7 linked regions of the Homo sapiens genome follow. The protein of the gene in region 1 purifies or fractionates together with the protein of each later gene. This does not show direct contact. Each region holds a gene or a part of one and is shown in the gene's direction. Other genes may lie near its edges. The genes, in order: PABPN1L, BTG3, CNOT10, ASS1, CNOT9, EML4 and CNOT1.

What was found.
Region 2: the proteins of PABPN1L (region 1) and BTG3 purify together in Homo sapiens (affinity purification with mass spectrometry; one large-scale study listed by BioGRID and IntAct). This does not show direct contact.
Region 3: the proteins of PABPN1L (region 1) and CNOT10 purify together in Homo sapiens (affinity purification with mass spectrometry; one large-scale study listed by BioGRID and IntAct). This does not show direct contact.
Region 4: the proteins of PABPN1L (region 1) and ASS1 purify together in Homo sapiens (affinity purification with mass spectrometry; one large-scale study listed by BioGRID and IntAct). This does not show direct contact.
Region 5: the proteins of PABPN1L (region 1) and CNOT9 purify together in Homo sapiens (affinity purification with mass spectrometry; one large-scale study listed by BioGRID and IntAct). This does not show direct contact.
Region 6: the proteins of PABPN1L (region 1) and EML4 purify together in Homo sapiens (affinity purification with mass spectrometry; one large-scale study listed by BioGRID and IntAct). This does not show direct contact.
Region 7: the proteins of PABPN1L (region 1) and CNOT1 purify together in Homo sapiens (affinity purification with mass spectrometry; one large-scale study listed by BioGRID and IntAct). This does not show direct contact.

Annotation. Positions count from the first base shown.
Region 1 is NC_000016.10:88,863,861-88,868,050, reverse strand, and holds the start of PABPN1L (embryonic polyadenylate-binding protein 2), read left to right. Parts: upstream 1-1,390; 5' UTR 1,391-1,444; coding exon 1,445-1,699; intron 1,700-2,109; coding exon 2,110-2,245; intron 2,246-2,420; coding exon 2,421-2,488; intron 2,489-2,922; coding exon 2,923-3,029; intron 3,030-3,110; coding exon 3,111-3,198; intron 3,199-3,671; coding exon 3,672-3,814; intron 3,815-4,190. UniProt on the Homo sapiens protein: Binds the poly(A) tail of mRNA.
Region 2 is NC_000021.9:17,593,153-17,595,901, reverse strand, and holds the end of BTG3 (protein BTG3), read left to right. Parts: intron 1-1,569; coding exon 1,570-1,809; 3' UTR 1,810-2,249; downstream 2,250-2,749. UniProt on the Homo sapiens protein: Overexpression impairs serum-induced cell cycle progression from the G0/G1 to S phase.
Region 3 is NC_000003.12:32,702,188-32,705,687, forward strand, and holds part of CNOT10 (CCR4-NOT transcription complex subunit 10), read left to right. Parts: intron 1-1,680; coding exon 1,681-1,775; intron 1,776-2,623; coding exon 2,624-2,785; intron 2,786-3,500. UniProt on the Homo sapiens protein: Component of the CCR4-NOT complex which is one of the major cellular mRNA deadenylases and is linked to various cellular processes including bulk mRNA degradation, miRNA-mediated repression, translational repression during translational initiation and general transcription regulation.
Region 4 is NC_000009.12:130,475,961-130,479,460, forward strand, and holds part of ASS1 (argininosuccinate synthase), read left to right. Parts: intron 1-910; coding exon 911-1,001; intron 1,002-3,500. UniProt on the Homo sapiens protein: One of the enzymes of the urea cycle, the metabolic pathway transforming neurotoxic amonia produced by protein catabolism into inocuous urea in the liver of ureotelic animals.
Region 5 is NC_000002.12:218,589,339-218,592,838, forward strand, and holds part of CNOT9 (CCR4-NOT transcription complex subunit 9), read left to right. Parts: intron 1-2,965; coding exon 2,966-3,064; intron 3,065-3,277; coding exon 3,278-3,369; intron 3,370-3,500. UniProt on the Homo sapiens protein: Component of the CCR4-NOT complex which is one of the major cellular mRNA deadenylases and is linked to various cellular processes including bulk mRNA degradation, miRNA-mediated repression, translational repression during translational initiation and general transcription regulation.
Region 6 is NC_000002.12:42,172,353-42,175,852, forward strand, and holds part of EML4 (echinoderm microtubule-associated protein-like 4), read left to right. Parts: intron 1-3,500. UniProt on the Homo sapiens protein: Essential for the formation and stability of microtubules (MTs). Required for the organization of the mitotic spindle and for the proper attachment of kinetochores to MTs. Promotes the recruitment of NUDC to the mitotic spindle for mitotic progression.
Region 7 is NC_000016.10:58,619,827-58,623,326, reverse strand, and holds part of CNOT1 (CCR4-NOT transcription complex subunit 1), read left to right. Parts: intron 1-3,500.

The DNA of each region.
Region 1 (4,190 bases):
CAGCAGTGCAGCTCCAGCCTAGGCCACGCCCTGTCTCTCTCTCCTCCCCCAGTCCCAAATTCCCAGGAATCCCAGCCCCACTGGCTAAACACCGGGGTGCAGTCACAGAGAGGATGGCCTCGGCCTGGGGGTAGGAGCTGTGCAGGGGGCCCCGTCTCCCACCACCAATGGCAGGGGTAAGAGCCATGCATGACCCCCTGGCCCCGAGTCCTTCACAGAGTGGGTGGGAGACGGCAGCACTGGAGATGAAGGCCAGAGCAGACTCCAGCAGCCGCGGTGGCAGGTGCAGAGGGAGGCGCAAGGGCGGACACGGGTCACCTCCTGCTGCAACCCTGCATGGGTGAAGCCAGGTGCAGACACCACCGGATGCCCACTGAATTCCGCCACAGTAACTCACGCCGTCACTCCCCACGGAGACCCCGCCCCACAATAACTCACGCCGTCACTCCCCACGGAGCCCCCGCCCCACAGCAGAATAATTCTGGCCTCATGGAAGTGGCTCCCACCTAAAAGATGACCCAGACCAGGTGCGGTGCTCACGCCTGTAATCCCAGCACTTCGGGAGGCCGAGTCGGGCGGATCACCTGAGGTCAGGAGTTCGAGACCAGCCTGGGCAACATGGTGAAACCCTGTCTCTACTAAAAAGACAAAAAAAATTAGCTGGGCATGGTGGCAGGTGCCTGTAATCCCAGCTACTCAGGAGGCTGAGGCAGGAGAATCACCCGAACCTGGGAGGCAAAGGTTGCCGTGAGCCGAGATCGCGCCACCGCACTCCAGACTTGGCAACAAAGCAAGACTCCTGCCTAAAAAAAAAAGAAAAAAAAAAAAAAGGCCCAGAATAAGGGTTAGGGAGGCAAGGGTCCCTGGGGACTCCATGGGGGTCAGGATGCAGAGACAGCTGTTGCTGCCCCTCCTCTGGGCCCAGGACCCCGCCCCAACCTGCCTCGGCCCTCTCATCCCATGCACCTGCTCTCGGTCTCTGCTCAGGCCCTGCCTCTCCTGGTCGGAAGCCACCTCTCCAGCCTGCTTGGTCCCTGGTACTAGAAGAAACCACTCCCGTGTTCCCACTTAGATCGAGTGTTCATGCAGTGTGGCGTTCGTGCCGTGTGGATGCTGCTGAGGTGTGAACCCTGTCACAGACCAAGGCTCCAGTGAGCCACAGCGTGGCCAGGCGGAAGCAGAAGAGACCGGTGACCCCCACTCAACTCAGCCTCTCCTTCCTCCAGGGAGAGTGTCCTGGAGGTACCTGTCCGAGTGACAGGGAAGGGGCGGGGCCGGGAGCCAAGGCTGGAAGCTCAGCCCCACTCAGCCTTTGCAAATGCTCTAGTGGGAGCAGCTGGCCTCAGGGGAGGGCTTAAAACTCCAGGAGAGCCTGGGCAGGTGCGGACGCGAGGGGAGTGGAGGGGAGGCCTCGCCTGGCCCACCTTCCTCCTGCCCCTCTACCATGTGGCCCTTCCCGAGCCGCTCTCTCTTCCCACCCCCGACTCAGGCCTGGCTCCAGACGGTCTCCTCAGACCCTGAGGCCCAGGGCTGGGGGGCCTGGAACGAGACCAAGGAGATTCTGGGGCCAGAGGGTGGGGAAGGGAAGGAGGAGAAAGAGGAGGAAGAGGATGCAGAGGAAGACCAGGATGGGGATGCAGGCTTTCTGCTGTCTCTGCTGGAGCAAGAGAACCTGGCTGAGTGCCCATTGCCTGACCAGGTAACAGCTGTGTGGAGGCCCTGGGGATCTCAGGGGACCTGGGGCACAGGGGCTGGTGGAGACACGGGGTCTGGGTGACGGATGGCTGCAGCTGACTTAGGAGGGGAGAGGGCCATTGCCCACCTGCCTGGACGAAGGTGGCAAGGAGACCCCCCGCCCCCAGCCACACAGACTGCAGGGTCAAGGTGGCCTCTCTCGCCTGGGGAAGGGCCCTTGAGGTGCGGTTTCGGGGGCTTCTCTGCAGGGGCGAGTTCATCCCCAGCCAGCTGCCCCAGGAAGGAGTGTCCCTGTCCAGAGAAGGGCTGCCCCTTGGGGCTGTGACCCTCTGCTGGAGCTGGCAGGCCACACACCCACCTTCCTTGAGCAGAGCCTGCAGGCTGCCTGCCCGGCTCAGGGCCGTGTGTCGGCAGGAGCTGGAGGCCATCAAGATGAAGGTGTGTGCCATGGAGCAGGCCGAGGGGACGCCACGGCCTCCAGGAGTGCAGCAACAGGCCGAGGAAGAGGAGGGCACCGCGGCCGGGCAGCTGCTGAGCCCTGAGACCGTGGGTAGGAACCAAGGGCACAGGCCGCCCCCCACTGAGCAAGGGTCCCACAGTTTCCATTAAGGTTGGGCCTGGCAGGCTCCAAGGTGTCACCTCCCCTATAAGCCTGGGCGACCTTCCCCGTGAGAGGAGTGAGGAAGGAACCAAGGGCCTGCGGGCCTGAGCTGTGTTCTCCGCAGGCTGCCCCCTCTCTGGGACCCCCGAGGAGAAGGTGGAGGCTGACCACAGATCCGTCTACGTGGGCAACGTGAGTGGTGGGCGGGGTGAAGGGGCAGGCAGCGAATGGGGCCCCATCTCTACCAGAGGGTCTGGCGCCCGGCCATGGGCCAGGCAGCCTTGCTGGGAAGGGGGTCTGACCCTGGGGGCAGCCCCGTCACCTTGAGGAAACACTGGCCTGGGCACATATTCCAGTTTTTCAACATGAGCTGGAATTCGGGGTTGCACATGAAATCTCCACTTTTGAGAAGCTTTTTAAAAGGCTCCAGCTCTCCAGAAGGAAGCGCTCCATACGAGATATCCTTTCCTCTCTTCCCTCCAACCCCAGCGGGGGTGTGGGGTGGAGGCCTGGGGCCATCCCCGCCACGGGGCCCAGCCTTGGGGTTTCTTTCCTCACCTCTAACAAGAAGGCCCCGAGTCAGGGCCAGGCGTCTCCCTCACATGCTGGTCTGGGCCTGGGTGCAGGTGGACTACGGGGGCTCCGCCGAGGAGCTGGAGGCCCACTTCAGCCGCTGTGGGGAGGTCCACCGAGTCACGATCCTGTGTGACAAGTTCTCTGGACACCCCAAGGGGTCAGTGTGGGGCCTGGTGGGGGCACTGGCCATGCGGACAGGGCCCAGCCTCACCCCTCCCCTCCCTGCCCCTCCCCTCAGTTATGCCTACATAGAGTTTGCCACCAAGGGCTCCGTGCAGGCCGCCGTGGAGCTGGACCAGAGCCTCTTCCGGGGCCGGGTCATCAAGGTGCGCCGGTGCTCCCCAGGTCCAGGAACATGAGCGCAGAGGGGCTGGCCCACTGGCCCTGGGACACACAGCAGCCCCAGCTGGCTCCTCTCTGCACAGCGTGTCTCAGGCACGGTGCTTGGCTGGGCCTGGACAGGATGTGGCGGGACCCTCGGACCTGAAGCTGGGTTTGGTCTGCCAGTGGCATGGTGGGGAAGTGTCCCCTCTCGGGCGGGAGCCCCCTCTGCAGGGGTGCTGGCCGTGACCCCCCCCTCTGCAGGGGTGCTGGCCGTGACCCCCCCCTCTGCAGGGGTGCTGGCCGTGACGGGGTGTCATATGACAGCTATGGTAGGCAAAGGCAGGGAACCCTGTAGGCCCGAATGGTATCCTGAGCCGGGCAGGACCCCATGCTCCGGGGTGGTGGGGGCTGCGGGGGCTGTGAGCTGGGTCTCGGCTGCTCCTTGAGGAGGACTCAAAACAGGCCTTTGCTCCAGGTGCTGCCGAAAAGAACCAACTTCCCTGGGATCAGCTCCACAGACCGCGGGGGCCTTCGAGGACACCCAGGCTCCAGGGGGGCACCCTTCCCCCACAGCGGCCTCCAGGGCAGGCCCCGGCTCAGACCACAAGGGCAGAACCGGTGAGTGGGTGCCTGTGGGGGCAGCCTGGGGGCGAGGGCCATGGTGGAGGGCATCAGGGGCAGGAGGGGGTCCCTGAGCTCGTTCCTCATGGGGCTGCAGGAATGTACCTGGCGGGGCCTGGGTGAGGGCTGTGGCTGCTGCATCAGCTGGTGGGGGGGGCGCTTTTTGTAGCCTCTCTGCTGGGAGAGGTGACCCCTTCTTGTTCCCACAAAGGCCCCAGGGTGGGCTACAGCTGCCCCAAGGGGCTCTCCTGGCACTGCCTTTCCTTTTCGTGGGACCCTCCCAAGAGAGCAGCTGGGAGTCACCAGAAAGGCCCCTGGGGCATTGCCTGAGCAGCCAGGTGACCTCCCTGCATCCTTATCCTGTTGTCCCCCG
Region 2 (2,749 bases), on another chromosome or scaffold:
CTTGCTAGTCATGTAAAATAGTACCACTACTTTGGAAAACTGGAACTTTTTAACGTTAAATGTGTAACTCTTCTATTACTCAGCAGTTCCACTCCTAAGTATTAAATATTTACCAAAAGAAACGAAAATATGCCTATAAAGCCTTCTATTAGAATTAACTGTGCTGTTATTCATTGCAGCATTGTTTTGTTCGTTGTGTATCATTGTTTTTTTAATAGTAAGAGACTGAAAACAGCCTCAATGTCCCATTACTAGGAGACCATTTAATTTATAGTCATTGCTATACTATCTAGCTGTAGAAAAATGAGAAGGATCTTTATGTATTGATATGTTTCTGAAATGTATTATTATGAAATGTAAAAAGCAGGATACAATCCAGTATACATATATATTTTTAAAGTGTGTATAGATGTGGATAGAATATCTCTAAAGGTATATTTAAAAAAATGTTTGGTGTCAGTTGCCCTTGAGAAGGGTTAAGATAAAGAAGATAAAGGGTGAGATAAAAAAAGAGGGACTTTCCACAGTTTACCCTTTTGTACTTTTTGAATTTTCTATCATGAATGCAATGCTATACACAATATAATTTTTTTAAAAAAATCCTATACTTAGAAATGCAGATTTGAGATCAGCAAAATCAGAAATTTAAGAAGATGTGGCATTCTAAGCAGAGAGGTCTAAAACTGCTGATAAGAACACTTTGAATAATGTGAACCTGACGTGCCCACCTGATTTATGGGATAATCTAAAACTATTATTCCCAAATACTAAACTGGCTACATCAGAATCACCTGGGGAGCTTTGTCAAAATACCTGGCCTCTAGTTCTGAGATTTTATTATTGTTCATTAGACCAGTGCTAGGGCATGAATGTTTTGTGTTTATCTTTTTTTTTTTTTAACTTTTATTTTAGGTTTAGGGATACACATGAAGGTTTGTTCCATAGGTAAACATGTGTCACAGGGATTTGTTGTACATATTATTTCATCACCCAGGTGTGAAGCCCAGTACTCAATAGTTATCTTTTCTGCTCCTTTTCCTTCTCCCACCCTCCCCTCTCAAATAGACTCCAATGTCTATTGTTTCCTTCTTTGTGTTCATAAGTTCTTATCATTACCTCCCACTTATAAGTGAGAACATGCGGTAGTTGATTTTCTGTTTCTGCATTAGTTTGCTAAGGATAATGGCCTCCAGCTCCAATGTTTTGTATTTAAAAGCCTCCAAGTGACTCCTGGCTTAGCCAGCTGTGGAAACCACTGGACTAAAACAAGCATGTCCTTACAAGCTTCCATTCGTTCCATGTTTTGGTCTTTTTTGGTTGAAGTTGTTTAGGAAGTACTGTGTTTGAGTTTATTCATTTCTTTATGCATTCAGAAAACATTGGTCACCTGTTATACATTATACGCCTATTACACATGAGGTTTTTAATGTATTTAGACCTGACAATAGGAGTGTCACTTAGATGTGATCTCAGTGTTGTGGGTAACTTTGTTTGTCTTTAATGAGAAATCTGGAACATAGATGATGATTTTTTCCTTTGAATTAACTTAATGTGTTCTCTTCCCTACAGATTTCAGAACTTATATTTCCACCTCTTCCAATGTGGCACCCTTTGCCCAGAAAAAAGCCAGGAATGTATCGAGGGAATGGCCATCAGAATCACTATCCTCCTCCTGTTCCATTTGGTTATCCAAATCAGGGAAGAAAAAATAAACCATATCGCCCAATTCCAGTGACATGGGTACCTCCTCCTGGAATGCATTGTGACCGGAATCACTGGATTAATCCTCACATGTTAGCACCTCACTAACTTCGTTTTTGATTGTGTTGGTGTCATGTTGAGAAAAAGGTAGAATAAACCTTACTACACATTAAAAGTTAAAAGTTCTTACTAATAGTAGTGAAGTTAGATGGGCCAAACCATCAAACTTATTTTTATAGAAGTTATTGAGAATAATCTTTCTTAAAAAATATATGCACTTTAGATATTGATATAGTTTGAGAAATTTTATTAAAGTTAGTCAAGTGCCTAAGTTTTTAATATTGGACTTGAGTATTTATATATTGTGCATCAACTCTGTTGGATACGAGAACACTGTAGAAGTGGACGATTTGTTCTAGCACCTTTGAGAATTTACTTTATGGAGCGTATGTAAGTTATTTATATACAAGGAAATCTATTTTATGTCGTTGTTTAAGAGAATTGTGTGAAATCATGTAGTTGCAAATAAAAAATAGTTTGAGGCATGACAACGCGTGTTTCTGTTGTGTGCATAAAAGGGGAAAAGAACGGGTATTTCCCTTCAATGTATTTAACTAAATAGCAAAAACATTAAACAGAACGTAAGAATTTTAAAATTTCCTTTGAAAAATCAACTATTAACCATACTTTTCCTAAAAGACCACATATCAGAATATGCATATGAAAAGTTAAAAATTTGTTAGTGGTAGTTATTGAAAATATAATAAAACATCTTTTAACTATCAGTGTCACTATACATAGGGTTTTTTAACAAAGAATTTGGCTCGTACTAATTTTGACATGACATCTGACTTACATGTCTAATGCCATTGCATAAAGTAGATGTGTTCTTACAGCTGCTCTAATCTCTGTGCCTTGTGCTTTTTTTAAAAAACATTTAAGTCTTTACTAGAGGCCTAAAATAAAGTCAAATAATACAATACTTCAGATTCTTCAGTAGTCCATATTTATACAACTGTAATTCCATCAGTCTTGTAAGGGTACTTGA
Region 3 (3,500 bases), on another chromosome or scaffold:
CAGGTTCAAGCAATTCTCGTGCCTCAGCCTCCCAAGTAGCTGGGATTATAGGCATGAGCCATCACGCCCAGCCAACAGTGACTCTTGAGAGAACTATAAAAAGTATTGAAGCATTTGTTAGAGTACTTAACACACTTTTGCTCTGAGTAGTTTAGGTTTGGTTCAGCTGAGATTTTTACCTTTATTTTGGAATTCTATTTTCAAATTAAAACAAAAAGCAAAACATCTAATATTTAAAATAGCAAATTATAGAGGTAGGAGGTAGTTTTCCCAGCTAAACAGATTATTAACCTTTACTGTGAATTTATATGGACACTTAACATATTAAAGAAACTTTTTAAATGTGTTAATATTTTGGATTTCTGAGCCTATGAAAATATTCCTTGCCTGGAAATTAGCTGTAAGCCCTTATCAGTGTAGTTTTCTGATTGTTACTACTTTCCAACTAAATTATAAATCTCTTAAAGCCATCGTAGGTGTGTTTATATCTCCAGCACCTGCCATAGTTGCTTGAATATGTGGGACTGTATATTGCTGGGTGGCAGATCTAATATTTTTTAAAGAGCACAATATTCTCAGCTTGAATGTCCTCATCTACAGGGCTTGTGGTCTTTATTTAAGTGGGCAGGTTTTCATTGTGTTTCAACTTGGCCATAGGAACCTTTTCAAGCTTTCAGAGGAGTAGCTTCTTATTAGCTTATAACATTAATCAGTCATTGTTTTTTGTTGTTTTTTTTTTTTTGAGACGGAGTCCTACTCTGTCGCCCCGGCTGGAGTGCAGTGGCATTATCTTGGCTCACTGCAAGCTCCACCTCCCAGGTTCACGCCATTCTCCCGCCTCAGTCTCCCAAGTAGCTGGGACTACAGGCGCCCGCCACCACGCCAAGCTAATTTTTTTTTTTTTTTTTTTGTATTTTTAGTAGTGACGGGGTTTCACCGTGTTAGCCAGGATGGTCTCGATCTCCTGACCTTGTGATGTGCCCGCCTTGGCCTCCCAAAGTGCTGGGATTACAGGCGTGAGCCACCGTGCCTGGCAACATTAATCAGTTATTGTTGAGAGAGCCCTAACTTTGGCCACTTTATTAGGAAGAACACAAGATGAAAACTAGGGACAAATTCACTATACAGTAGTCCCCCACCTTTTCCTCAGAAGATACATTCAGGGTCCTCCGGTGGATACTTGAAACCACAGATAGTACTGAACCTATGTACTGCTTTTTTTAATACGTACATAACTATGATAAAGTTTATAAATGAGGCACAGTAAGAGATTAACAACAACAGTAATAAAATAACAGTTATCTGAATGTGGTTTCTCTTTCTCAAAATATCTTACTGTACCCTACTCACCTTTCTTCCTGTGACCTATTGATCTGATAACCAAGATGGCTACTGTGTGTCCAAGGGGGAGGTATCTTATACAACATGGAATGCTAGACAAAGGAATGATTGACTTCCTGGATGGGACAGAGCGGGACACTGCAGGATGGCAAGAGATTTCATCATGTTACTCAGAACATTGCTGTTTAAAACTTAAGAACTGCTTATTTCTGGAATTTTCCATCTGATATTTTCATACTTGACCTTGGGTAACTGAAACTGCAGAAAGTGAAACTGGATAAGGAGGGACCACTGTACAACTTTTATTTCTAAAGAACTGTAAAATTTGTGTGTTTGCAGATCAGGGAGCAGAGAAACATGAAGGCACAGGTCAGTCCTCTGGGATCACTGATCAAGAGAAGGAGTTATCCACCAATGCTTTCCAAGCTTTCACAGTAAGAAATGGCTTCTCTTAGTCTGCTCAAGTTGTAGGGTTCTGTCAAGTATGAATCTTTTCATAGTGAATTTTTAAATTTACAATTTTTACTCTGTAATAATTCAAAAGTTAATTTAGAGATAAGTAGGTTTAATTTTTAAAATAAATGTTTTAGAGTTTAAATATGGTGAAAGGAATGGGAATAATTGGAGCCATTCCCAAGTTTTTGTAAACATGTTTTAACTCATATACTGTTGTTTTTAAGTCTTTTAAATTTAGATTTGTAAGTATGTGGGTCAGTCTTTTCATTTCACTAAGCTGTTCAATTCTTTTATTTATTTATTTCTGAAAATATCAGATTCAAAAATTATTTTCTTGAAGGTACTTTAAAATGGAACCCCAAAACTTTATTGGCAGAATTTTAACTTTTTCTGGCATTAAACAATATGAAAGAAAACCTTATTTGGTTATCAGGTTACGTGCATGTAAGCAGAAGAACTTGATGCTTGGGTATTTAAAATATATTTACTAGAAAATAAAATTTGGAGTGATTATATTACCTTTCTTGACTAGCCTCAGCCATTAATACCCTGCTAGCACTATATGTATATGCCAGTATATTTATCATATCAATATATGTGTCTTATATGTGTCAATGTCAGGGTTTTGAGTCTTAGGAAGTAAATATCCACAGTTTAACTGACATGAATGTTGCTTTAGTGACTTTGATTAGTATATGTAGGGAAACTACATCTTTCTTTTTAAGAACTTTTAAGATAAAGATGAATGAAATATATTTGGAATGATATACTGTATTTAAAGCTGGTATGTAATTTTGTGTGTGTGTGTGTGGTTTTTTTTTTTTAGTCTGGAAATTATGATGCCTGTCTACAACACCTTGCCTGTCTACAAGATATAAACAAAGATGATTATAAAATAATTTTGAATACAGCAGTAGCTGAGTTTTTTAAAAGTAACCAAACAACAACAGATAATTTGAGACAAACACTTAACCAGCTGAAGAATCAGGTGATACATAAATGAATTTAACTATAAAAAATATTGTTCTGTTCTTTAATTTATGAAACACAAATAGTTAAGGAAAATAAATGTGATTTGTCTGGTATTTCTTGTCAGAAACATTTGTTAGCATTAATTTTATTTCCGTAAAATTATTATTCCAGGAGATAAAAGGTATGTTGTGGGATCATTTTTTTTAATTGGGGTTTTAATGAACTTGAACAGAATAGACTAATATACCAAATTTGAATGAGCTTTGGAGTTTTGAGAAAGAACTATATGAAGAAGCTTAGCTGTGGAGATATATCTTGTTTATAATGAAAAAAATATGATTAATCCTAATGTCAAGTCGTTTTAGCATTTGGATCAGGAGATGATTGATTAAATAGAAGATATTCTGCTTTGTATCTGGCTTGGGGCTTGAATTGGGGATTGGTCTGGTGATAATGGCAATGTTTCTTGAATCCTGGGGCTAGACTTTTGGTGTTCAAGAGGGCTGATAACAGTGATGGTGCTGATAGGATCAGCTAGCATATGTTAAGTGTTCACTGTGTGACAGGGCTCTGCCAAGCGCTTGTATGCAACTTCTCAGCTTGTTCTTCTCAGTAGCCCTATGAAATAGCTATATAATTTTTCTTATTTTAAAAGTGGAAAAGCCAAGGCACAGATAGCTGTGTAAATTGTCCAAAAACACAAAGTTTTTGAGTAGTAAGAGCTACATGAA
Region 4 (3,500 bases), on another chromosome or scaffold:
GTTGCCCAGGCTGGTGTCGAACTCCTGAGCTCAGGCAGTCCACCCACCTCAGCCTCCCAAAGTGCTAGGATTACAGGTGTGAGCCACTGTGCCCAGCCGTCTGCAAGGTTTTTAAAGCAAAGATGAGACAGCAGTTCCTGGATGTCAGCAGGTGAACAAGGACCCCAGGCACAGGATGCCCACAGGAGGGACCTGAGCAGTCAGGCCCAAGAGGCCCCAGTCCCCACAGTGGCAAATGTCCAAGCCACGGCCTGGGGGAGCTGGGGCCTCCGAAGGTGGGAGGGAATTTCGAGAGTTTCAGGCAACACGCAGCCCCTCCACCACTGCATCAGACGAGAGGCCCATTTTCCAACACGCCCAAGAAAAAATATACATAAAGGTTGATGTGTTTTCAAATGGGTTTTTGCTTTGCTCTTCTCTTTTCTCCCTGTGAGTATTAACCTTGGGGACCCTGGGGACGGCTCGGCTTGCCAGAGCACCTGCTGGGGTCACAGGCAGTCATTAGCTTTGCGGTCAGTGCAGAATAAACCCCAATCCCGAGCCGGCGAGAGCGTGCGTGCCGCTCCTGGGAAGCCCTCGGAACGCCGCCTTGCTCCTCCAAAGTCACACTTTTTCCTGCCTGACTTGTTCCTCTCCAGCTATTCTACCTCCAGCTGTGGGGGCGTCGAAGAAAAAGATGAGATCAAGTTGAGGGGAAAAATTGTCTGATTTCTCCAGCCCTTTGTTTCCCAGGCCTCTGGCAAGCGAGGCTGGTGCTAGGCTGAGGGCTGGGGACCGGGGGATCTGCCGGACCCCACCAGCTGGTGGGGAAATGGACAGAGGAGAGGGGTGCAGATCCCCGCGGGAGGTGGGCTGTAGGGTGTCCAGGGACTGGTATGTCATCTGCCCACCACTTTCTGTCTTTTTTCAGAACCAAGCGCCTCCAGGTCTCTACACGAAGACCCAGGACCCAGCCAAAGCCCCCAACACCCCTGACATTCTCGAGATCGAGTTCAAAAAAGGTATGTGCCCACCTGTTGGGACTCGAAGGGGGTTGACTTTTGGGGCCCTGGCTCCTTTCCCCTCCCTGCCTGGGAACCTAGGCCCTCTTTACCCCCGCCCTGCATTCCTGGAAGCTAGAGTTCAGGCAGGGGCTTCAAGGTAACGCACAGCCCACCTCCCTGGACAGTACAACCCATGGACCATGGATGCCTCTAGGCTTGGGAGGAACATGCCCTCGGCTACCCATCACTCGGGTTCATGGGCACCAGGTCTGGAATGAGAGCGCTCTAGTCCCTGAACAGCCACTCAACTTTCCTGGGCCTCAGTTTCCTCAGCTGTATCTGAGGATGAAAGAGTGCCTGCTGTTTTCCTGGGGTAGAATGAGGCCTGCAAGGGAGCGTCCAGCCCTGGGCCCTGACCCCGGAAGGTGCTCAGTAAACGGTGAGTGTTGGCGAGCTGGCCTCATGGACCCCTGGGACCCCACATGGAAAGCCTTCGCCAGTCTTCATTGAGCCGCTCTGGGCCTCACCCTGCTGACCCCACGTTCAAAGCTGCGGCCACTCTTGCTCCCCTCGGCAGTGGAGGCTGTCCTGATCGCTCCCTCCTTCTCACTGCTGTCAACAAGAAGCGTTTGCTGACCTGGCCTGAGTGCCTGGGTGCCTGAGCTTGGGAGAGGGCATCTCTTGGCCTGGAGGAAGGATGGAGAAGCGAGGCATGCCCGCCTGGGCTCAGAGGGAGGGCTCAGAGGGCGGGCTCAGAGGGCCTGAAGGGGTACCTTTTCAGGAGGCTGGAGTGATCAGGGAGGCTTCCTGGAGGAGGTGGTGCTGGGCACAGGGGCACCCAAGGACCAGGCGGGGGGCTGGCCCATTCGTCCACAAAGTGGCTGCCCACACTGGAGCTGGGATGAGAGGGAGAGAGGCTCGTGGAGAGGCCTGGCCCGGCTCTGGCGCTCGGCTCTTACCCCGGCTACCACAGAAAGGAGGATAGGGTGGGGAAGCCTCAGGCCGGTGGGGAGGCAGAGCTGCAGATCCCCCTCTCCCCCTTGCTGGTGTGACCTTGACAGCCAGCTTCACCATGCTGGGCCTTGGGTGCACTCATCAAAAAACGGACCACAGGCATGATGCTCACAGGTGCCCGGCATGGTATGTGGAATGGGGTGTCGGAGGCTAAGTGCTTTAATAATCTGCCTCTTCTGGGCCTTTCCCAAGAGCTTGGCCAAGCCAGCGACTGTCTTCCTTGCTCCCCTTCATCTGTCCCAACCTACTGGGGGGCCAAAGAGGACCCCAAAGGCAGCCGGGCCCCCAGGCCTGTTTGCAGGCACAGAGCCTCCCTTTAGGATCATCTCTGAGAAGATGGTGGGAGTGGCCCCAGCAGCACCTCCTGGCTCCCTGCACAGGGCTCCCAGGAGCCTGGAGAGCCGTGAGGGTGGGAGGCGGGTGGCAGGCTGCGGAGGGTCCTGGGCACCAGGCTCTGGCAGCCCTGCCCGAGGACCAGGGCAGCTCCGCAGGCTGAGCTGGAGAAGAAACGTGACCTATTGTCATGATTTGGGGACTGTCTGGAAGAAGAAAAAAAGACCGGAGGAACCCTCCCCTGGCTAGTGCCCATTCACTCTCTAGTTAATTTATTTGAAGTTTTAATCTAATTATTAACTATTTTAAAGGCTAAGAGGCTTTCTCCAGCAGCAGCACCAACAATGTCACCTCTTCTCCCGGGCAGGCCCCATCTAAGGCCCCAGCGAAGGCCGATAATAGGACCGGGGAGGGAGAGAAAGGGAGAGAGGAGAGGCGGGGGGTGGTGAGAGGGGCTTAAGGTTCATTATTGGGCAGACTTACATTTAATAGCAATTTACAACCAAGTTATAAAACCCCTGGAAATGGGGGTTAAGAATGGCGAGGCTGACAGCGCCTTGAGTGAAGCCCCTCCAAGCGGCGCCTGGCTAATAAAGCCTCGAAAGCCGCTATTGAGGCCTGATTGGCACCCGATGGCTCGCTCCATGGTAATGAGCCGGGCAGATGGGTGGGGGATTAGCCGCCAACTTTGAACAGCTTTTCTTTGTCACTGTTTCAGCTCTCTTGTTAGCCCCAATACATTTATTGCTCATTTCACACCGCTCGAGAAAGTGCCCCTTGCTATTCAAAGTCAACCCCGAACCCACCCACTGCCCCCACCCAACCCCTTCCCTCCTGCCACCCCGGACCCAGCTCCTCGGATTCAGGGACGCTGCCGACACCTCGCCTGCTGGAGCGGGCACCGTGTCACCCCCATCAATCAGATGGCTGCGTGTGGGTCTGGGGTACAGGGTCGGGGCGCGGGGTCCGCCTGACAGACGTGGCAGGGGGCTGTGTGTGTGTGTGTGTGTGTGTGAGCGAGTATGTGTGTGCTTGAGCCCAGCCACACCTCGGCCAGGCGGCCCCCGGGTGACTGGTGGGACAGAAGGTGCTCCCGGCGTAAGACAATGGTGGAGCGTGAAATTCAATTAGTTCAGGGCCTGGTTCCAATTTCACAGCCCCTAAATGCAA
Region 5 (3,500 bases), on another chromosome or scaffold:
TTAAATTATTTATTTATTTAGAGACAGGATCTCTGTCTGTCACCCAGGCTGGAGTAGAGAGGCATGGCTCACTGCCGCCTCGACCTCCTAGGTTCAGTTGATCCTCCCACCTCAGCTTCACAAGTAGCTGGGACCACATGCCTGCTCCACCACACTCAGCTAATTATTTTTATTTTTTGTAAAGACAAGGTCTCCCTATGTTGCCTGGGCTACTCTTGAACTCCTGGGCTCAAAGGATCTTCCTGCCTTCTGCCGTAGTACTAGGAGTACAAGCATGAGCCACTGTGCCTGACCAATTTATTGTTTTTAAAGAGACAAGGTTTCACTATGTTGCCCAGGCTGGAATGCAGTGGCTATTCACAGCCATGATAATGGCACACTATAGCCTTGAACTCCGGGGCTCAAGCAGTCTTCCCACTTCCCTCTCTGGAGTAGGTAGCTTTGATACTGGCACACATCCCTATACCTGGCTATTTTTAAGCTTTTTATTTTAAATATTCAATATATGGATGACTGTCAAAGGCATTGTTGAGCAAAAGAAGCCAGACACATGGGAATTCATACTGTATGTTGATTATGTGAAGTTTAAGAACAAGCAAAGCCAATTACTGGCAATAAGTTGGATTCGTGGTTAGCTCTGAGGAAAGAACATTGACTGGGGAAAGGTACAAGGGAATGCTGGAATCCTGAGTTGGTAGAAATATTGCTTTTTTCTGTTTTTTTTTTTGTTGTTGTTGTTTTTTGTTTTTGAGACAGTCTCACTCTGTCACCCAGGCTGGAGTGAAGTGGAGTGATCTCGGCTCATTGCAACCTCTGCCTCCTGGGTTCAAGCAATTCTCATGCCTCAGCCTCCTGAGTAGTTGGAACTACAGGCACACACCATCATACCCAGCTAATTTTTTGTATTTTTAGTAGAGATGGAGTTTCGCCATGTAGCCCATGCTAGTCTTGAACTCCTAAGCTCAGGCAATCTGCCTGCCTCCACCTCCCAAATATTCTGTATTTTATACAATATTTTGTATTTTAATCTGGTTATAGTACATAATGTGTACATAGGTAAAAATTCAAGGTACACTTAAGATTAGTGCACTTAACACACTTCACTGTGTGTAAGTTTATATTAGGTTCCTATATAACCTGCTGCTATAACAAATTACCACAAGCTAGAAGGGTAGTGGCTTAAAACAATGGAAGTTTACTGTTTTATAGTTTTGGAAGTCACAAGTTCTAAATGAGTTTCACCAATCTAAAGTCAATGTATCAGGAGGGTCATGCTTTCTCTGGAGGATATAGAGGAGAGTCTTTTTGTTGCCTTTTCTAGCTTCTAGAACTGCATTTCTTGCATTCCCTGGATTATGGCCCCCTCCCTCTTCAGATCCAGCGATGTGGCATGTTCAAATCTCTTTCTGCTTGTCACATTGCTTTCTCCTTTGTGGTAAAATCTCTCCCTACATCTCTCTTGTTGTTGTTGTTGTTGTTGTTGTTTTGTTTGTTTGTTTGTTTTAAGAGATGGGGTTTTCTCTGTCGCCCAGGCTGGAGTGCAGTGGCATGATCATAACTCACTGCATCCTTGAACTCCTGGCCTCAAGCAGTCCTCCCACCTTGGCCTCCCAGAGTGCTGAGATTACCAGCATGGGTCACTTTGCCTGGCCTTCTCTACATCGCTTTTAAGGACACTTCGTTATTACATTTAAGGCCTACTTGGATAAACAGGGATAATCCCCCATCTCAAGATCCTTAACTTAATCACGTCTGCAAAGTCCCATTTTTCATTTAAGGTAACATTTGCAGAGTTTGGTGATTAGGGCCTGGATATCTTTGAGAGCCATTATTCAGCCTACTACAGTGTTATAACCCCAATAAAATAGTAAAATAATTCCACAGTTCATTTTGATGAGCAGCCAAGAAAGAGTATCATTATCGTGATTGTCTAATTTAAATTAAACTAATATTTTAATATCTCTTTTATGTAAGAGCTAATGAGCTCAAGTTGAGGGAAAAATTGAGGCCACATATAAGCTTCACAGCCAGGATATGTTTTATTACTGTTAGATAATCTTCAAAGAGAAGCGTGAAAATCTTATTTCTTCAAGATCTTTTAAGAACAAAAAAGGCCTTATCTCAGCCGAGTGCAGTGGCTCACGCTTGTAATCCCAGCACTTTGGTAGGCCAAGGCAGGTGGATCACGAGGTCAGGGAATTCAAGCCCAGCCTAGCCAAGACGGTGAAACCCCGTCTCTACTAAAAATACCAAAATTAGCCAGGCATGGTGGCAGGAGCCTGTAATCCTAGCTACTCGGGAGGCTGAGGCAGGAGAATCAGTTGAACCAGGGTGGCAGAGGTTGCAGTGAGCTGAAATGGAGCCACTGCACTCCAGTCTGGGCGACAGAGTGAGACTCCATCTAAAAAAAAAAAAAGAAAAGAAAAAAGAAAGAAAGGCCTTACTTCATCTGGAAGAGAGGAGGCATAGCTGAATAAATCATCTTGGCCTATGGAAAAGAGAAGAGCCTTAGATATTCAAATGAGGCTTGGATCTCAGCTGTGCCATAGTAACTTTGTCACTTGGGACCTTAACCTGGTGCATTATTGATTAACAGTTATACCGGGCACATAGTAGGTACTCTGTAAATGAGAAGGTCTCTGAGTTTTTAAGAATTTGATAATTACACGGAACCTACCCTTGTATGTAAAGTGAGAATAATAATGGTACCTACCTCATTGATTTATTATAAAAATAAGATAAGCATGTAAAGCCTCTAGAAAAAAAAACTGGTACAAAGTAATGTTCAACATGGTAATATTTATTATTCTTTGTACTATACATATATGATAAAGTTGTACATAATATACAAGGATCCCTGCTTGCTCAATTTTCTGACTGATAGTCATGCCTGGGAAAATGAGTAGAAAATGAGAAGATTAAATCTGAGCAACTTTATAAACTCTTCGATTTTGTTTTGCTTCAGGTTGCCACATTCATCCTCCAGAAGATCTTGTTAGATGACACTGGTTTGGCTTATATATGTCAGACGTATGAGCGTTTCTCCCATGTTGCCATGATCTTGGTGAGTTCTTTCATCTATCCCCTTTACAACTACTTCTCATCACAAAGCTTAATCTCTTTATAACTGGCATTGAACAACTTCAGTCCTCTGACTAGAACTAACAATTTTGGAACCTTTTATGATTCTTGGACTATCTGATCTCTGATGTCAATTAGAATTTGTTTGTGTTTTGTGTGTTTTTTCCAACCCCTCCCCTTATTTTGGGGGAAACAGGGTAAGATGGTCCTGCAGCTATCCAAAGAGCCTTCTGCCCGTCTGCTGAAGCATGTAGTGAGATGTTACCTTCGACTTTCAGATAACCCCAGGTAAACATTTATAGGATGTATAGGACTTTAGGGAAATACTCTGCTGAACAGTTTCCTAATCTCATGGCATAGCTCCTGTGTCTTTAGGACAGGGAAGTGGGGATATAACTGCATTTAGTTTGTCTGAGACA
Region 6 (3,500 bases), on another chromosome or scaffold:
CTGTGTTATGTGCATTTTATAAGATGTCTAATGGCAATTAAGACTAGGTAGTGGTTTTTTAAATCATAGGAATGATAAGTGATTGGCCATTTTATAAATGCCACATTGAAGTTACATGGTACTGATTATGTTATCTTTGTTTTACATAAAAAACAAGTGAAGAATTCTTTTAATCTCCGCAGCTGATGAATTTCAGGCAACTTGGCTGGCAGGTGCTTGTACTCTGGAATTTCCCTTAGGTATTATTAATATATCTTTTAATCCACAAATTATGGTAACTTAAGGCAGCACTTTAGAAACCTTTTTTTTTTTAAACTTAGGAGAGAAAAGTACTCAATTACCTTGATGTGTTGCCTCTAAATCACTACATATAGATACCCATGTGCAAAATGTATATACTGTATGTATATTAAATCTCAGGTCTATGTGCAAAAGTGGGAAGCTATTCATACAGCTTTTACCGATTTTTTATAAGGCAGGGATTGGGTGCATTTCATGCTTAATCTTTTTAGAATCTCTTTCATAATAGAGGTTTAATTTTAAGACTTTTATCTTGGAATTAACCTAGAGATTAGTCTGTTTTCACTTGAAAGAAACCTTATACCTAACCAGTCAGCTTTAAATTTTTCTGCCTCAAAAGTTAAACAACAAAACTTAAAATCTTCTTCCCCCTAAGAAAAATCATAGTGAATGAAATTGTTGGATTAGGATCTATAAGAAACAACATTCTGGGTACAGGTTGTAAATGTGAACAAGTATAGCAGTATGCTTCAACTTATGGACTATTCAGAAATTAGTCTTTTTAACATCACATTGTTAGAACTGTGATTTCTCATCACAGATAATAGTCTTGCTTTCTTAAAGGAACAATGCTGTATATGATTTTCACATATTAATCTAAAGCATTCCTTATTTACATGAAAATGTTTTTCATGTAATATTTGGAGAGGTTTTTTTTTTAAACTTTTTTTATTGGTTGCCTCTTGAAGAGTTCAAGATAGACTCAAGTTGTGTAACCAGACATGAGTAGTAACTCTTAAATGGTTAGTAGAGCATCTTCAACATGAGTTAGCTAGAGTGTTTTTCAACATATGTATGGATTAACATCGAACATGGGCTAGCACTATGCTTGGTGGTTCTTATGGGAAAGACAAGTAAAAGACATGCTTTTTGCCCTTTAGGAGCTTACTGCCTGGTTTTTAAATAAGTACCATGACTAGGTGCAGTGGCTCACGCCTGTAGTCCCAGCACTTTGGGAGGCTGAGGTGGAAGGATCGATTGAGCCCAGTAGTTTGAGACCAGCCTGGGCAACATAGCAAGACCCTGTCTCTGCAAAAAAAACAAAAATAGGCATAGTGGCATGTGCCTGTAACCCCAGCTACTTGGGAGGCTGAGGCAGGAGGATCACTTGAGCACAGGAGTTGAAGGTTGCAGTGAGCTATGATTGTACCACTGCACTCCACTGGGCCACAGAGCAAACCTCTGCCTCTAAAAAATAAATAAATAAATAAAGTATGTACTGTATGTAGAGATGTTTATTATTAAGCCTAAGTACCAGAAATGGGGATGAAGGGAGGAAGCACCATTTAGAATGCTGTGCTATGTTTCAAGCAAGTAACTTCTGAGAGAACATTTGTTGATTGCTAGATTTATCTCTGCAGAGCTTGGCTTTTTAAAACAATGAAATAATTTAGCAGTTTAAATTCTAGGGAGTCTTTTTCTGTCTTATGTGTAAGTTGGAATAACATGTAGCAAAATACTGTATTTTGTATGTGGGAGTCCATTTCTGTAACATGTAAAACTTCAATATTCATAAGAAATTTTAGAAAAATATTTTGATTTTTAAAATAGATTCTAATACTTGTAAAAAGTTTAGGGAAAGAATCTACTTCATCTAGTATTACCTCAGTGTGGAAGATTCCCAAATCTATAGTATATTTCTTTGTGTGTGTGTGTCTGACGGAGTCTTGCTCTGTCTCCCAGGCTGGAGTACAATGGCACGATCTCAGCTCACTGCAACCTCTGCCTCCTGGGTTCAAGCGATTCTCCTGCCTCAGCCTCCTGAGTAGCTGGGATTACAGTTGTGTACCACCACACCTGGCTAATTTTTGTATTTTTAGTAGAGACAGGTTTTCACTATGTTGGCCAGGCTGGTCTCAAACCCCTGACCTCGGGTGATGGCCACGCACCTTGGCCTCCCAAAGTTCTGGGATTACAGGTGTGAGCCACTGTGCCTGACCCTGTAGTATATTTGTATGTCGGTATATGATCTCTTGTCCTTTAGCTGTCTTAGGCTTTTATAATACCTTAATTTTGCATGCTGTATATGATTTTTAAATATTATTTTAAAGCATTCCTTATTTACAGTTTACAAAGAGCTTTTATCTCATTTAATTTGCATACTAACCTTGGGAGATAAATTATTATACTTTTATAGGTGAAAAAGGTCTAGAAAGTGGTTTTTTTTTGTTTGTTTGTTTTTTGAGACAGAGTCTTGCTCTGTTGCCCAGGCTGGAGTGCAATGGCGCGATCTCGGCTCACTGCAGCCTCCGCCTCCCGGGTTTAGGCAGTTATCTGCCTCAGCCTCCCTAGTAGCTGGGATTACAGGTGCCCGCCAGCATGTCTGGCTAATTTTTGTATTTTTAGTAGAGACGGGGTTTCACCATCTTGGCCAGGCTGGTCTTGAACTCCTGACCTTGTGTGATCCACCCACCTTGGCCTCCCTTACAGGTGTGAGCCACCGTGCCTGGCCGTGTTTTTGTTTGTTTGTTTGTTTTTGAGACGGAGTCTTGCTCTATTGCCCAGGCTGGAGTGCAGTGGCACCATGTTGGCTCACTGCAGCCTCTGCCTCCCGTGTTCAAGCTATTCTCCTGCCTCAAGCCTCCCGAGTAGCTGGGACTACAGGCACTCACCACCACACCTGGCTAATTTTTTGTATTTTTAGTAGAGATGGGGTTTCACTGTGTTAGCCAGGATGGTTGTGATCGCCTGACCTTGTTATTCGCCTGCCTCGGCCTTCCAAAGTGCTGGCATTACAGACGTGAGCCACCGCACCTGGCCAAGAGTGTGTTATTTTTTTAAAAGGTTAAGTCCAGGTTTTTTCTTTTTTTGTATGGTTGGGAGTGTTTGTATCTATATTATTTTTATTTTATTTTATTTTGTTTTTTTGAGACAGAGTTTCTGTCGCCCAGGCTGGAGTACAGTGGCACAGTCTTGGCTCACTGCAACTTCTGCCTCCTGGATTCAAGCGATTCTTGTGCCTCAGCCTCCCGAGTAGCTGAGATGACAGGTGTGCACCACCGCACCCAGCTAATTTTTGTATTTTTAATAGAGAAGAGGTTTTGCCATATTGGCCAAGCTGGTCTTGAACTGCTGTCCTCAAGTGATCCATCCACCTCAGCCTCCCAAAGTGCTGGGATTAGAGGTGTGAGTCACCATGCCCAGCATCATATTATTTTTAAATAAAACACCATAGAAAGGAAAGAAGAATAGAAAAATAA
Region 7 (3,500 bases), about 30 Mb from region 1:
AGGATCTTAGAAGTTGTATGCCAGGAAATGGGATGAAGACCAAATGTATATCTCACAATAAATATTACAGTAATGTTGAAGTAATTATTTGAAATATAAAAGTGGGATGGAAGTATTTTCTTTTCTTTTTTTTTTTGGAGGCAGAGTCTCGCTGTATCCCCCAGGCTGGAGCGCGATATCGGCTCACTGCAACCTCTCCTTCCTGGGTTCAAGCGATTCTCCTGCCTCAGCCTCCTGAGTAGCTGGGATTACAGGCGCCTGCCACCACGCTTGGCTAATTTTTGTATTTTTAGTAGAGACGGGGTTTTGCCATATTGGTCAGGCTGGTCTCGAACTCCTGACCTCAGGTGATCTGCCTGCCTTGGCCTCCCTAAGTGCTGGGATTTCAGGCGTGAGCCACTGCACCCAGCCAAAAGGATTTTCAAAGACGCTATCTAACATTCTTTTTTCTTTTTCTTTCTTTCTTTTTTTTTTTTTTGGGTCAAGAGTTTCACTCTTGGCGCCTGGGTTAGAGTGCAGTGGTGCGATCTCAGCTCACTGCAACCTCTGCCTCCAGGTTTCAAGAGACGATCCTGCCTCAGCCTCCCGAGTAGGTGGGATTATAGGTGCCCACCACCACATCTGGCTAATTTTTGTATTTTTAGTAGAGACAGGGTTTCACCATGTTCGCCAGGCTGGTCTCAAACTCCTGACCTCAGGTGATCCACCCACCTCAGCCTCCCAAAGTGTTGGGATTATAGGCGTGAGCCTATAATATTCTTAAGCTTTATATTCAGAACTCAGCAGTTTCCGAGTCAGATAATTAAACGTTTGTTCCCTTAGATTTATAGCTTCTAGGTTTTGCGTTTTTTTCTTAATTGATTTTATTTTTTAGAGCAGTTTTGGGATCACAGTAAAATTGATGAGAAAGTACAGAGGTTTCCTGTATTATCTCCTGCCCCAATACATGCTTTGCCTTGCCCATTGTCCACGCCCGCCCCCCCCCCCCCCCCCACTAGAGTGGTACATTTTTTGAGATACAGTCTCGCTCTGTCACCCAGGCTGGAGTGCAGTGGCGCCATCTCGGCTCACTGCAAGCTGTGCTACCCGGGTTCACGCCATTCTCCTGCCTCAGCATCCCTAGTAACTGGGACTACAGGCGCCCACCACCACGCCTGGCTAATTTTTTATAGTTTTTTAGTAGAGACGGGGTTTCACCGTGTTAGCCAGGATGGTCTCGATCTCCTGACCTCGTGATCCACCCGCCTCGGCCTCCCAAAGTGCTGGGATTACAGGTGTGAGCCACCGAGCCCAGCCTGTACATTTCTTACAATTGATGAATCTACGCTGATAGATCATCATCATCCAAATTCTCTGGTTTACATTAGAATTCACTCTTGGTGGTGTATCTTCTTTTTTTTTTTTTTTTTTTTTTTTGAGACGGAGTCTCTTTCCGTCGCCCAGGCTGGAGTGCAGTGGTGCGATGTCGGCTCACTGCAAGCTCCGCCTCCCGGGTTCATGCCATTCTCCTGCCTCAGCCTCCTGAATAGCTGGGACTACAGGCACCCGGCTAATTTGTTTTTTGTATTTTTTGGTAGAGACGGGGTTTCACCGTGTTAGCCAGGATGGTCTCGATCTCCTGACCTCGTGATCTGCCCGCCTCGGCCTCCCAAAGTGCTGGGATTACAGGTGTGAGCCACCATGCCCGGCCATGGTGGTGTATATTCTGTGGATTTGGACAAACTATAAGGCCTGGTTTTGCTAACAAGAATAGTTGCCAGGCGTGGTGGCTCATGCCTGTAATCCTAGCACTTTGGGAGGCCGAGGCGGGCGGATCACCTGAGGTCGGGAGTTTGAGACCAGCTTGACCAACATGGAGAAACCCCGTATCCACTGAAAATACAAAATTAGTTGGGCGTGGTGGCGCGTGCCTGTAATCTCAGCTACTTGGGAGGCTGAGGCAGGAGAATCGCTGGACCCTGGGAGGTGGAGGTTGCGGTGAGCCGAGATTGCACCATTGCACTCCAGCCTAGGCAACAAGAGCAAAACTCTGTCTCAAAAAAGAAAAAGAAAGAATAGTTAGCTGGGCCAGCGCAGTGGCTCACGCCTGCAATCCTAACACTTTTGGGAGGCAGAGGTGTACAAATCACTTAAGCCGAGGAGTTTCAGACCACCCTGGGCAATATGATGAAACCCCATCTCTGCTAAAAATACAAAACTTGAGGTGGGAGGATCACCTGAGCCTGGGGAGGTCGAGGCTGCAGTGGGCTGTGATCATTGCACTCCAGCCTGGGTGACAGACTCTGTCTCAAAAAAAAGAAAAAAAAAAAGTTATCTTTTTGTCTAGTTTCAGGCTCTTGTCTTTTTTGAAATAACTTTCTAACTAATCTCCATTATAGTTTCTTTATCATTGGTTTTTGGGTTTATTTCACAAATAATATGTGGATATTGTGATTGTAAAAGATTCTAGGACTGCAGTTAATTTTTTATATTTCTGCCAAAATGCCACTTAAATCATTGCTTTGGAAATATCCTTTCTTTGTTCAGAAGTCATTCTAATACCTTCATCTGGAATTATAAGTGTTGATTCCTCCTTCCCTGTGGTACTACTGTGTTGTATTATAGTCAAAAGACTGTTAAGCAGTGGTACCCAAATATATCTTTGTCCTCTTTTTTTTTTTTTTTTTTTTTTTTAAATGAGACAGAGTCTTCGCTGTGTCACCCAGGCTGGAATGTAGTGTCGCGAGCTTGGCTCACTGCAATACAACCACCTCCTTCCGGGTTCAAGCGATTCTCCTGCCTTATCCCCGCCGAGTAGCTGGGATTACAGGTGCCTGCCACACCACGCCCGGCTAATTTTTGCATTTTTAGTAGAGATGGGGTTTCCTCATGTTGGCCAGGCTGGTCCTGAACCCCTGACCTCAGGTGATCTGCCCACCTCGGCCTCCCAAAGTGTTGGGATTACAGGTTTGAGCCACCGCACCCAGCCTCTTCGTCTTTTTACATCTGGAATGTCATCTCTACCAAAACTTTATCATTCTAGTCCAAACTCAGGTGTACTGTCTATAAATACCTAATTTCCTTAAGCAAAATTGATTTTTTGCCATCCTTGGCCAGTTTCACTTAAGTGCACCCTACAATGCCTTTTAAGTTTTCTGTCCCATAGTGAGTAAGGAGTCTCTTTCCCCAGTGCATATATACAGTTGAACTGTAATTGAATAGTGCTTCATTTATTACAGTTGGGTAAATTGATAGAATATAGCATTCTTGGAAATCGATACTCTGGTTTTTCTTTTTTTCATACTGCTTGAATGAGCAAGTAACATTTCAGAGGAAAAGATCTATCGGTGGTGGTTCATTATGTAGGTCAGGATTTTAGTTTCATTTGTGCATTGGATTTTAGAATATCATGACTATCTCTAGTAATCTACAGAGTTAAACTATTTACATCTTGGCAATTTCTTGAATTAATTAGGGAGATCTTTCTTTACCCCCAACCTTTTATTTGGATAGAGTTTTCT